2 separate regions of the Homo sapiens genome follow, and region 1 is linked to region 2. The links come from fine-mapping of genetic effects on gene expression. A gene starts in region 2. The other region holds a variant in brackets. All regions are shown on one strand. Distances are between the middles of the regions. Region 1 has its middle 93 kb from the start of POLR1A. Region 2 holds the start of ST3GAL5 (ST3 beta-galactoside alpha-2,3-sialyltransferase 5).

Evidence for each region.
Region 1: its variant is fine-mapped to the expression of ST3GAL5 in whole blood (TOPMed, PIP above 0.99).

Annotation. Positions count from the first base shown.
Region 1 is chr2:86,010,078-86,015,449 of GRCh38, forward strand. No RefSeq gene overlaps it. Among named protein-coding and RNA genes, the nearest start is that of POLR1A, 93 kb to the right of the region's middle. RefSeq lists an enhancer at 2,043-2,543. The variant G/A (reference allele first, on the strand shown) is at 3,161.
Region 2 is chr2:85,887,112-85,892,482 of GRCh38, forward strand. It overlaps ST3GAL5 (ST3 beta-galactoside alpha-2,3-sialyltransferase 5), which reads right to left and starts at 1,879. Exons shown (of 7, transcript NM_003896.4): 1 at 1,713-1,879. The coding sequence starts at 1,794. ST3GAL5-AS1 (ST3GAL5 antisense RNA 1) reads left to right here and starts at 2,169. Exons shown (of 3, transcript NR_110569.1): 1 at 2,169-2,692; 2 at 4,065-4,094; 3 at 4,580-5,141. RefSeq lists enhancers at 461-580, 591-720, 1,059-1,559, 1,251-1,330 and silencers at 1,501-1,620, 1,661-2,280.

The sequences.
Region 1 (5,372 bases), 120 kb after region 2:
GTTTAATTATATTATAATTAATATAACAAAGACCTAGAAGTAGGAGTTCCAAGATTGGCTCATGAGTTTGTGGAAACAAAAACTTACAAGCCATACATTTTTAAACTCAGCTTTGGCTATAAGAGTTTAATCCAAGCTCAAGCCTGCAAGTCTGAATCCATAGTTATTGAAGAACTATGACAGAATGGGTGTCTAATGACATACATGCTTTAGGAAGACAAGCTCTGAGTCAGCCATTATAAGACAAAGAAAAGTTAGCAAATATTTCCATACCTATTACCAAACAAGGTAAGTTAAATCTATACCTTGTCCCCCCTATTTTTATCATAAAATTCAGTTTCCAAGTTTTTTTATTGAGAAGGGCATAGAGTTTTTCTGAAATAGTGTTAGTTCTAATAGTAATAGTCCTAAAGATCATTGATTGACTTACAATCTTGAGACCAGGATATGTTTGTTACAGTAACATCTGCCAGGATGTGTGTTGTAGAAAACTTTTGTTCACACAAAACTGCAAATTGTGTTTGGCATAGGCATTTGATCTTATCTACCAGTTGAGGTGATTATTAAACCTGACTTCATTGATCTCACTTTCATTTACTCACCTTATAAAAGAGGACTGTGCAGGTTTTCTTAAATTTAGGAACATGGTGAAAGGTATTGTCTTCCTTGTAAAATGTAAGAGTGGTGACAGCAAATCAACTTTAAAATATAATGCAGAGGCTAGGCTGGTGGCTCACGCCTGTAATCCCAGCACTTTGGGAGGCTGAGGCAGGCAGATTACAAGGTCAGGAGATCGAGACCATCCTGGCTAAAATGATGAAACCCCTGTCTCTACTAAAACTACAAAAAATTAGCCAGGCATGGTGGTGGGTGCCTGTAATCCCAGCTACTCAGGAGGCTAAGTCAGGGAGATTCACTTGAACTCAGGAGGCGGAGGTTGCAGTGAGCCGAGATCACACCACTGCACTCCAACCTGGGCAACAGAGTGAGATTCCGTCTCAAAAAAAAAAATACAATGCAGAATGAAATGGGTCACAACCACTCAACCATGCCAGGGCCCTAGGTCAGCCCTCTGCCAATCTCTAGGCATGCCAGTGGCAGCAAGGTGACTGCCAAGGGAAGAAGGGGATGGACCTCTCCCTATGGATGTAACTAGGTATTTTCCCAGAAGCTACTTACATGCCATTGATAAGGGTCTGGCCAGTCAAGAGCACAGGGGCTGGGGTTGCTATGATTGGTTTAGGCCACTTATAGCTGAACATATTACAGCCTGATTGAAACTGGGGTTTTGTCAGTAGGGGAGGCAGAGCAGGCAGAGGGGCTGCAAAGTAGGGAGTGAGATGTCAGACAACTGCCTTTGCTGCCTCCCCCTAGTCCCCATTCTGGGAGCCCACTGTAGAAGACACAGCGGGCGGTAGGAAACATATGTGAAAAAGCTCGATTTTTACAATGCAATAAACATTAAACAGCTTTGTTGGAGAGCAAGGAGCCTCATAAAGTGAGTCACCCAGGATCCTTCTCGCAGGACTGGGGCATGCCAAAGAGCAGGCTTTGAGTGTAGGTAGACCTGGCCGCCTCTCAGTGCACCTCTGATGGCACCAGCTCCTGGGCAGGGAGCTGTTCCCCCAGGGCACTGGCATCTGGGCAGGGCCAAGGAAGTCCTCACCTCTGTGACTCTGCTCCCAGGCACTCGACATCCTTCTTGGCTGGGAAAGTGTGACCTCCAGGAAAATGCTGGGGACGTGCAGAGGCCAGCGCCCTCTGCATGGGTCTCCTGGGAGGCCTGTGAGGGGCCTGGGAAATGATCACAGGCTTTTCCCAGCCTTCCTTCATCCTTGGGAAATTCGCTGAAGGCCAGTCCCCTGTTGAGTGTGGGGCTCTAGGCCCTCTTGGGTCCTGAGCAGAGCTGGGCCCCACTCCTTTCTCTCCCAGCAGTGACCGTAAGACACTGCCCCCAAGTGAGGAGAGGGACCCCTGTGTGAACCGGCTGCAGGAAGCCCTTGCTCCTTTCTCAAGGCTGCGAGCCAAAGAGAGCAGGCTCCTGGGGCTGTCTCTTCACTATCCAGTCCAGCCCTAACAACCTACTCCTGCTTGGGTCTCCCCGCCCCCTACCCTCTGCCCTGTGCTCCCACCATCCACTTCAGGCGAAAGGGAGAGTGTGCTGTCCTGTACATGCTCACACATTCCTGTGCCTATTACCTGGCCCCTCACCTGGAAGGCCTGTCTTTGATCTTCCACCTAGACAGAGTTGCCCCCCTCTGGCCCTCCCAACATGCAGCTGACCCAGGATGGTCCTGCAGCCCACAATGGCCTCGATGAGCACATCTCACAGGGCTAGGTAGGGGGCACTGGCAGAAAATTAGCACCCAATGGGGAGAGGCTGCAGCAGGACCAGAGCAGGAGCATGGCCAGGGCAGGATGCCCACCTGCAGCCGTCCCCAGGGGGCTTGGCCATGTGGCATGCGCTGCTGGTGGAGGAAGCTTGGCTGAGCATGGGGGCAGGGGAACAGGCCCCCACACACACTCAGATGCACGTTTACAATCACATGAGCTGCATTCTAACAGCTAGTGTATGTCCTTTTTATTCTCAAAAAAATTTTTTTACTGTAGTGAAATACACATAATATAAAAATGACCATCTTAACTATTTTTAGCTGTACAGTTCAGTAGCATTAAGTACATTCACATTGCTGTGCAACTCTCACCACCATCCATCTCCATAACCCTTTTCCTCTTGTAAAACTGAAATTCTATACCCATGAAACACTAACTCCCCATTTCCCCTTCTCCCAGGCCCTGGCAACCAGCATTCTGCTTTCCATCTTTATGGTTTTAACGATGCTAAGTACTTCAGTCTTGAATACTTTTCTCCATTCCCCACAGCACCCCGCTCCCCAGTCGCAGACACCCTTGCCTGCTCTTGATTTGCCTGTGACATTGCAGTGGTTAACATGGGCCCCCTTGCCTCCAGTCAGAAGGCAAATCAATCCCTTCCCTGCTCTAGCAGGATTGGAAGTCACTGAACCTATTTGCTTCTCATTCAAAGTGATGGCAGCCAGAGGGTGGTGTGGCAGTGCTGGGATGGGTGGGGTGCAGGCAGTGGAGATGGCAGGAAGGACAAAAGCCTCAGCTGTTCTAGGGGACAGTGGCAGGAAGAGCC[G/A]CCTGTGATCCAGACAGACCCCAGTATAGGCATCTGCGCAGCATCTCTAAGACAGATGCAGCATATCCCACACAGGAGGAGGAAAGAGAAGGGTGAACCCTTCACGAGAGACTTTCAATTGTCTCTGATGGCTCATCCCTACCTCACAGCCTGCTGTGATGCTTAGAGTTCTCTAGGCAGCCATCCCTAATTGAGTATAATGGACTGAATGTCTGTGTCCCCCCTCAAATTCATATGTTGAAGCCCTAACCCTCAGTGTGGATGTATTTGGAGATGGGGCCTCTAAGGAAGTAATTAAGGTTAAATGAAGTCCTAGGGTGGGGTCTTGATCCAATAGGATTAATGTCCTTCTAAGAAGAAACATCAGAGTGTGCCAGCATGTGCTCGTGCTCTCTCTCCTCTCTTCTCTCTCTGCCTCTGTCTGTCTCTCTCTGTCTCCTTGTGGAGGAATGAGGAAGGGCCATGTGAACACACAGCAAGATGGCAGCTTCCTATAAGCCAAAGAAAGAGACCTCAGAATAAAACCTACCTTGCGGGCATTTTGATCTCGGACTTCTGGCTGCAGACTGTGAGAAATAAATTTCTGTTGTTTAAGCCACCCAGTCTGTGGTATTTTGTTACAGCAACCCAAACTGGCTGAGACATCGAATCATCATGAAGCCACGGGGCAAAGGCATGGGAGTATTAACAGGCATAGCTTGTATCAGAAACGGGGAGTAGCATGGTGTGTCCAGAGGCCATGGCATTTAGAGAGGGGTGTAACTAGAGATGGAATCAGAGAGCTAGAGCCTCTATATCATCTATGGCAATGCAGGCCATGCCAGGGCCTTGGGACTTACCCTAAGAGCACTGAGGAATGATCTTCACATTTGCATTTAGAAAGAGCTATCTGACTGCTCTGTGCAGGCTTGATCAGTAGAAGTGGGGAGGAGCAGTGGAAAGGGTGGGGATGAAGGGGCAAGAGATCAAGAGGCAGCTGTTCCATGGATCAACCATAGGGTAGATGTGGGCCATGGGAAGGGATGGGCCTGGTCACCAATTAGCTGCAGATGAAGAGGCAGTTTCTGGCCTGGATGATGATGAGTTGCACAAATAGTTCTCCCCTTGACAGAGACGTGATTGACTCCCAAGCCTGGGCAGGTCCCAGGTTCCAAACAGAACAGAAGTCCCTGAATCTTATTTCTACCACATTCAGTTGGTCAAAGCTAGTCACAGGCCAGCCCAGATTCAGTGCTGGTGGGGCCTACCTGACGGTGTGAATACAAGGAGGCTCAAGTCGCTGGGATCATTTCATAACACCCCACCACCACATCCAAGTTCCAGACAGGAAGAAAGGGAAAAACAAAGCCAAAGGCCAGAAGCACTTGCCACCTAGCTAGGCCTATCCTTTTGAACAAGCTTTCCCCGAAGTCTCATTCAGTGCCTTCCTCTGGTCCAGAGAAAGAAATGGGTCACATGACTATCCCTAGCTGCAAGGGAGTCTGGGAAACAGTATTTTAACCTGAGCACACTGACACCACCAATAAAATCCAAATTCTCAGTAAGGAAGAAGGAGAGGATAGATCTAGAGGAAGCAACTAGCAGGGCCTGCTTCAGAGGCCATGGAAGAGTTGGGGGGAACCACCACCACTAAGTGCTTTTATGGGAGAGAAGCCATGCTCAGCATGCACCAAATTATGAGAAAATGGAGAGGCTGGTTCATTAGGTCTGGGGTGGGGTCCAAGGTGTGCATCTCCAACATGCTCCCAGGGCTGCTGATCCTGGCAGTAGGAAGATCACACTTGGAGTGGCCCTAAACTGGGTTATACTGGGGTCACAAGCAACCCCACATGTCAGAGGTTTAAATAGCTGAGGTTTGTTCCTTACTCATGCAGCCTGTGCACTGTGAGTTGGCTGGGGCTTTGCGCCTGGGAGCCAGGTGGCCAGAGCATCTACCATCTGGAGCAGCACTGGTGACCAGGCCAGAGGGAAAGAAGTCATTCATGGCAAAGAATTAAGCAACTCTTAGAAGTCATTCAAGTCAAATGGCCATGCCCAACATCTGGCAGGGAGGGGAAGCCGGTACTGGTGAACCATACTACAGACTATGACAGCTTCACAGAAGAGATGGGATTTAAGCAGAGGGGTCTTTGAAGGATAAATAGGAGCTTACTCTGTAGAGAAGGGGCCAGAACATTCGAGGCTGAGGGAACATCATAAATAACTATAACAC
Region 2 (5,371 bases):
TTCATTGCCTCCCGAGGCCAACCTGCTAGATAAATTCCCCTCATTGCTGCAAATAGTCCCACAAGGCAAGCAGGGAAGAACTAGAGGAGCAAACCAAAGAACAAAGAGTGTGTTCTTATTCTGCCACGGATATATCCTTAACGTTCATCACCAATCTATTTTGATAACATGCAACAATTTACAATTTATGCCAAAATTATAAGAACTGTCCAAATAGTCGTAAATGTGAGCTCTCAAAATTTCTGCCTGTCAGCCCTCTCTCTTCCATGAGCCCCTTCATGCCTTCCTATCTCACCTGTTTCTTTTCTCGCCTAGACGAAGAAATGCTGATCATAACCCAGAATATCCAAGGGTCATTTCATCTTACAAAAACAGCAGCATCCATATAACAGGCACATGGGTAAAAGACTCAAGACATGCTGGTTATATGCTCTCGCAGTTCGTATGAATCTCTCCTTCTCCAAGTGACAGCTGGAATTCAGGTGCTTCTAGGCTCTGTTACTAGCAATGTTAGACACTCCTCGAAGCTGTCAAGCTCTCAGGATTACACAAGTGAAACCACAACCTGTCCTGACTGTATTCAAGTCTGTGCCCCTTCATGCAGCAGAAATGGATTCCTCTTCCACAGTTTCAGCAGCTGTATCCTTCCGTGGAAAAGGATTAGCAGCCATAAGCCCGGGGGAGGGCAGCTAAACACCAGAGGGCAGGAGATGAGTCTCCTTCCTCTCTGTGACACCCAGCACGGCCCTGCCACGAGGAGCAGGCAACCACTGGTGCCAGATGAAGCGCAGCACATAAAACCATTTTCCCCTTCAAATGAACGATGCCTAATTAAGCAAAAGCCGCATGCATGACTTAAGACATGAGGATATAAAATTCGTCTTCCGAGTCAGCTAGAGATTCTGCAGGATCCTCTACCCTCGTAAACGTATTTTTTTATGATTAGAAAAACCCGGGGCCTGGAAGGGACCTCGGCCATCGGCAGGGTAAGCTTCTCAGGAGAGACCATGAGCCCGAGCCCCACAGGGGGATCAGTGTCTGCCAAGGTCACCAAGCGGGTGTGAGGCAAGGGCAGGGCTCCTCGGGGATGCTCTCGGAAAACCCTGCGTTACTTACACACGCAAGGCGTACAATGAATGCACACCCGCGTCAAGCCACGGCTTACAATTCAGAAGAAATCAAAAGGTCGCCAAAACCTGTCTTCTCCGCAAGGCTGGCTGCAGAGAGGGTGCAGGGAAGGTCACCGGCAAATTTCTACCAGCGGCCCCACATCACGCCTCCCCGATGGATGCAGAGAGAGGTTTCAGGAGCTGCTAGTAACCTTGCAGGGGGTTCCCTAAGCCCATCCCAGGAAAACGAGTTAACTCGGCTCTGCTAACTCCGAAGCTTCCAGCAATGAATTAAATCCCGAGCTGCAGCGGAAAGCGGCGGGGAAAGGGCCACTGCGGCGGGACCCGACACCCGGCGGTCCGCCCCACCCTCTACCGCGTACACACCTGCGTGGGACCCCCCGCCCGGTCCACACGGCCCGGGACCACGACCCTCCGCCCGCGCCCCAGCCGGGCTCGCCTGAGGGTGTCGTGCCCTGGGCGCTGCCCGCGGGGTTCGAGGCGGAAACGCCGCGCCCAGCCGGCCCGGGAAGAGACAAGTCGCCGCCGCAGCCCCCAGCCCGCGGGCCCCCGCGACGCCGAGGAGGGGGCTGCGCCACGTACCTCGGCCGGCAGGTGCCGCCGCTGCCTCGGTCCGCGGCTGCAGGGGACGCCGCTCCGCGCAGCCCGCCGCCTTCGTCCGCATACTAATGAGGGGGCGCCGGCCGGCCGCCAGCCCGGTACCCCGCGCCCCCACCCGCCCCCAGCGCCGCTCTCGCGCCCATTCAGCTGGGGGCCGCCGCTCCCCCGCTCAGATGCGGAGGAGGGGCGCGTGGGCGGGGTCTGACGTCACGAGGACGCGGACGGCCAATCGGAGAGCACGATGCCTCCGCGGCGGCCCCCGCCCCCGGGCGCGCGGCCAGTCAGCCCTGCGGTGCGGTGGGCATTGCCAGAGCAGGGCGCCCCCTGCAGGGACGCACCCGGGGCGGGGGCCAGGCTGGGGCGAGCCCCCCTTGGTTCTGGAGAGGAAATGACATACAGTTTGTGAAAGCATAAATATTCGTGAAAATAAGAAAATTCAGGAAGGAAACAAAGCTTAAGGCAGTGATTGATAGGTTATTTCTTGGACACAGCTGAACGTATACTGTGCGCCTGCAACTTTCCGGTGGTTTCGGACCGGACTTCAGTGAAGCCAGTGAAGTCGGTCGACTTGCAGAACTTCCTTTCAGAGGGGCGTACACAGCACCGCGGCCGTGTGCCTGTGATCTCCTTCTGAGTTTGAAAAAGAAGATCCTAGACACCGAGCCAAATATGTTTGCATAAACCGGGAGACTTGTGGCTCTATTTTGTAACAGCTTGGCGCAGGGCAGCTGGTTTGGAGATGTCTCTGTTCTTCCCTTGGTGGGGGTGCCGGAAAAAATGTGCTGCCTGGGCGATCGAGGTTGGGGCAAAAGCGTTGCAAAGGAAAAGGTGGGAGGACTCTACTTTCACATTTCCCAAAAGAGTTTTACCATAAGACTATTTCTGGATTGTTCTAACGTGAGGATATTGGGAGCATTTTGAAAATACTGGAGGAAAAGCTGTCACTGGGCGATTTAAATCCGGTAAGTTGGCCAAGGCAGAGCAGCTGCTGGGGTCAGCGACAGCTGACCCTTGCAGCTGAGTATCTTGCCCTCTTAATCTTGGAGATCAGCCCAAGGCCCATGTGTTACAGGAAAGGGGTCCCGATCTAGACCCCAAGAGAGGGTTCTTCGATCTCACGCAAGAAACAATTCAGAGTAAGTCCACAGTGCAAAGTAAAAGCAAGTTTATTAAGAAAGTAAAGTGGTGGCTGGGCACAGTGGCTCACGCGTAATCCCAGCACTTTGGGAGGCTGAGACGGACAGATCACCTGATGTCAGGAGTTCAAGACCAGCTGGCCAACATGGCAAAACCCCGTCTCTACTAGAAATACAAATATTGGCCGGGCGTGGTGGCGCAAGCCTGTTGTCTCAGCTACTCACGGGGCTGAGGCAGGAGAATCGCTTGAACCCGGGAGGCAGAGGCTACAGTGAGCCGAGATCGCCACTGCACTCCAGCAGGGCATTCCTGAAAATAAGAGGAGGGACATATCCAACTAAGGTACAATGCTTGTAATGCTTGTATATATGGGCAGATGTCTTCTGCTACAAGGGTTTGTGATAAAGGATTAATTTTCCCTAATTACTATATTTTGCAATAATCAATATTATTATTTTTAAAGCAAAATTAGGAATGCCTTTGTTCTCCAGATATCGGGATATCTGGACTCTCTCAAGTCTGGGTCTGTTTAGTAAGCATTATTAATTTGTTCTCTTAACCATAAACACCTAGAGGCTAGGAATGCCTAGCTTTCAGGAAATGCAGCCTAGCAAGTCCCAGCCTCATTTTTCTAGCCCTCACTCAAAATGGAGGCGCTCTGGTTTGAACACTTCTGACACATGTGCTTGATGCAACACTCTTTACCTCTCTTTGTCTCCCCTGTCCTTCCCCTTCTCTTCCAGATTCCCCTTGTCGGCAAAGCCAGGCGCTGATAGCGTTATGGCTGCCATGAGAGTCAGCAGTATCCCAGCTTCCAAGGATGGGTGTAAGGTGGGGGTGAGGAAGAAAAGGAACTTGAAGCTGCCTCCTGTCCCAGAATCACAAGACATCTGTTAAGCCCTTACTACCTCATTCACTCCACTCACATTAGGTTGACCCACTTGGGCAGCAAGACAAGCAGGCCTGCAAACTTCCTTTTCTTCATCAGCCACAGAGACATCCTCAGCTATTATTCTGGATTAAGGCAGAGATCTCCAAACAGCAGACTAAGATCAGCCTCTAGATCTCAAAGCCTTACTGTTATCTCTCCAAGTCAGTGGCTGATCTCAGAGAAGCTTCTGAATAGTGACTAGCAAAGAGTCACTCAGGCTACTTACAAATCCAGGACAGCAGCGTTTTTTTTTTTTTCTTTTTTAGAGACAGATTCACTCTGTCATCCAAGCTGGAGTGCAGTGGCACGATCTTGGCTCACTGCAACCTCCACCTCCTGGGCTCAAGCAATCCTCCTACCTCAGCCTCCCAAGTAGCTGGAACTACAGGTACCCAACACCATGCCAGGCTAATTTCTAATTTTTTGTAGAGACAGCAGTCTCCCTCTGTTGCCCAGGCTGGCCTCAAACTCCTAGGCTCAAGTGTTCCTCCTGCCTGGGCCTCCCAAAGTGCTGGGATCACAGATGTGAGCCACTGCATGCAGCCAAAACCAGTTATTTTTTGGCTGGGCATGGTGGCTCGCACCTGTGATCCCAGCACTTTGGGAAGCCGAGGTGGGCAGATTACTTGAGGTCAGGAGTTTGAGACCAGCCTGGACAACATGGTGAAACCCTGTCTCTGCTAAAAGTACAAAAAATTAGCTGGGCATGGTGGCATGTGCCTGTAATCCCAGCTACTCAGGAGGCTGAGGCAGGAAAATTGCTTGAACCCAGGAGGCAGAGGTTGCAGTGAGCCGAGATCACGCTAGTGCACTCTAGCCTGGGTGACAGAGCGAAACTCTGTCTAAAAAAAAGAAGTTATTTTTTATCAATATATATTAACATGCAATGGATTTATTATTATTATTATTTTATTTATTTATTTTTTACTTGAGACAGAGTCTTGCTCTGCCACCCAGGCTGGAGTGCAATGGTACAATCATGGCTCACTGCAACCTCCACCTCCCAGGTTCAGGTGATTCTCCTGCCTTAGCCTCCAGAAGTAGCTGGGATTACAGGCACGTACCACCATGCCCAGCTAATATTTGTATTTTTAGTACAGATGGGGTTTCACCATGTTGGCCAGGCTGGTCAAGAACTCCGGACCTCAGGTGATCCACCCTCCTCAGCCTCCCAAAGTGCTGGGATTATAGGTGTGAACCACAATGCCCAGCCAGATTTATTATTTTAATGACTTAATAAATATTTTAAAATTTAAATATTTAAATTAAATTAAATATTTAAAAATTTCTCAGTTTTAATTTTTAATTTGGCAAATATCAAGAGAAAGACCATGTCAAAAAGATTCTTTGGGATCCTCAGTAATTTCTAGGTGTGTAAATTGATCCTGAGACCAGAGTTTGAGACTTACTGGTCTCAGCCACCCAGATAGCCCCATTGCCCCATCCTCCTTGCCACTAGGAATGGTTCATGGGTAGCCACAGGAACCACACTGATCCAATCAGAGGAAGTCTCAGGAATTTATTGGATGCTGGGGGAGAGATGCTTTCATGTTCTGCTAGACAAGAACTAGGC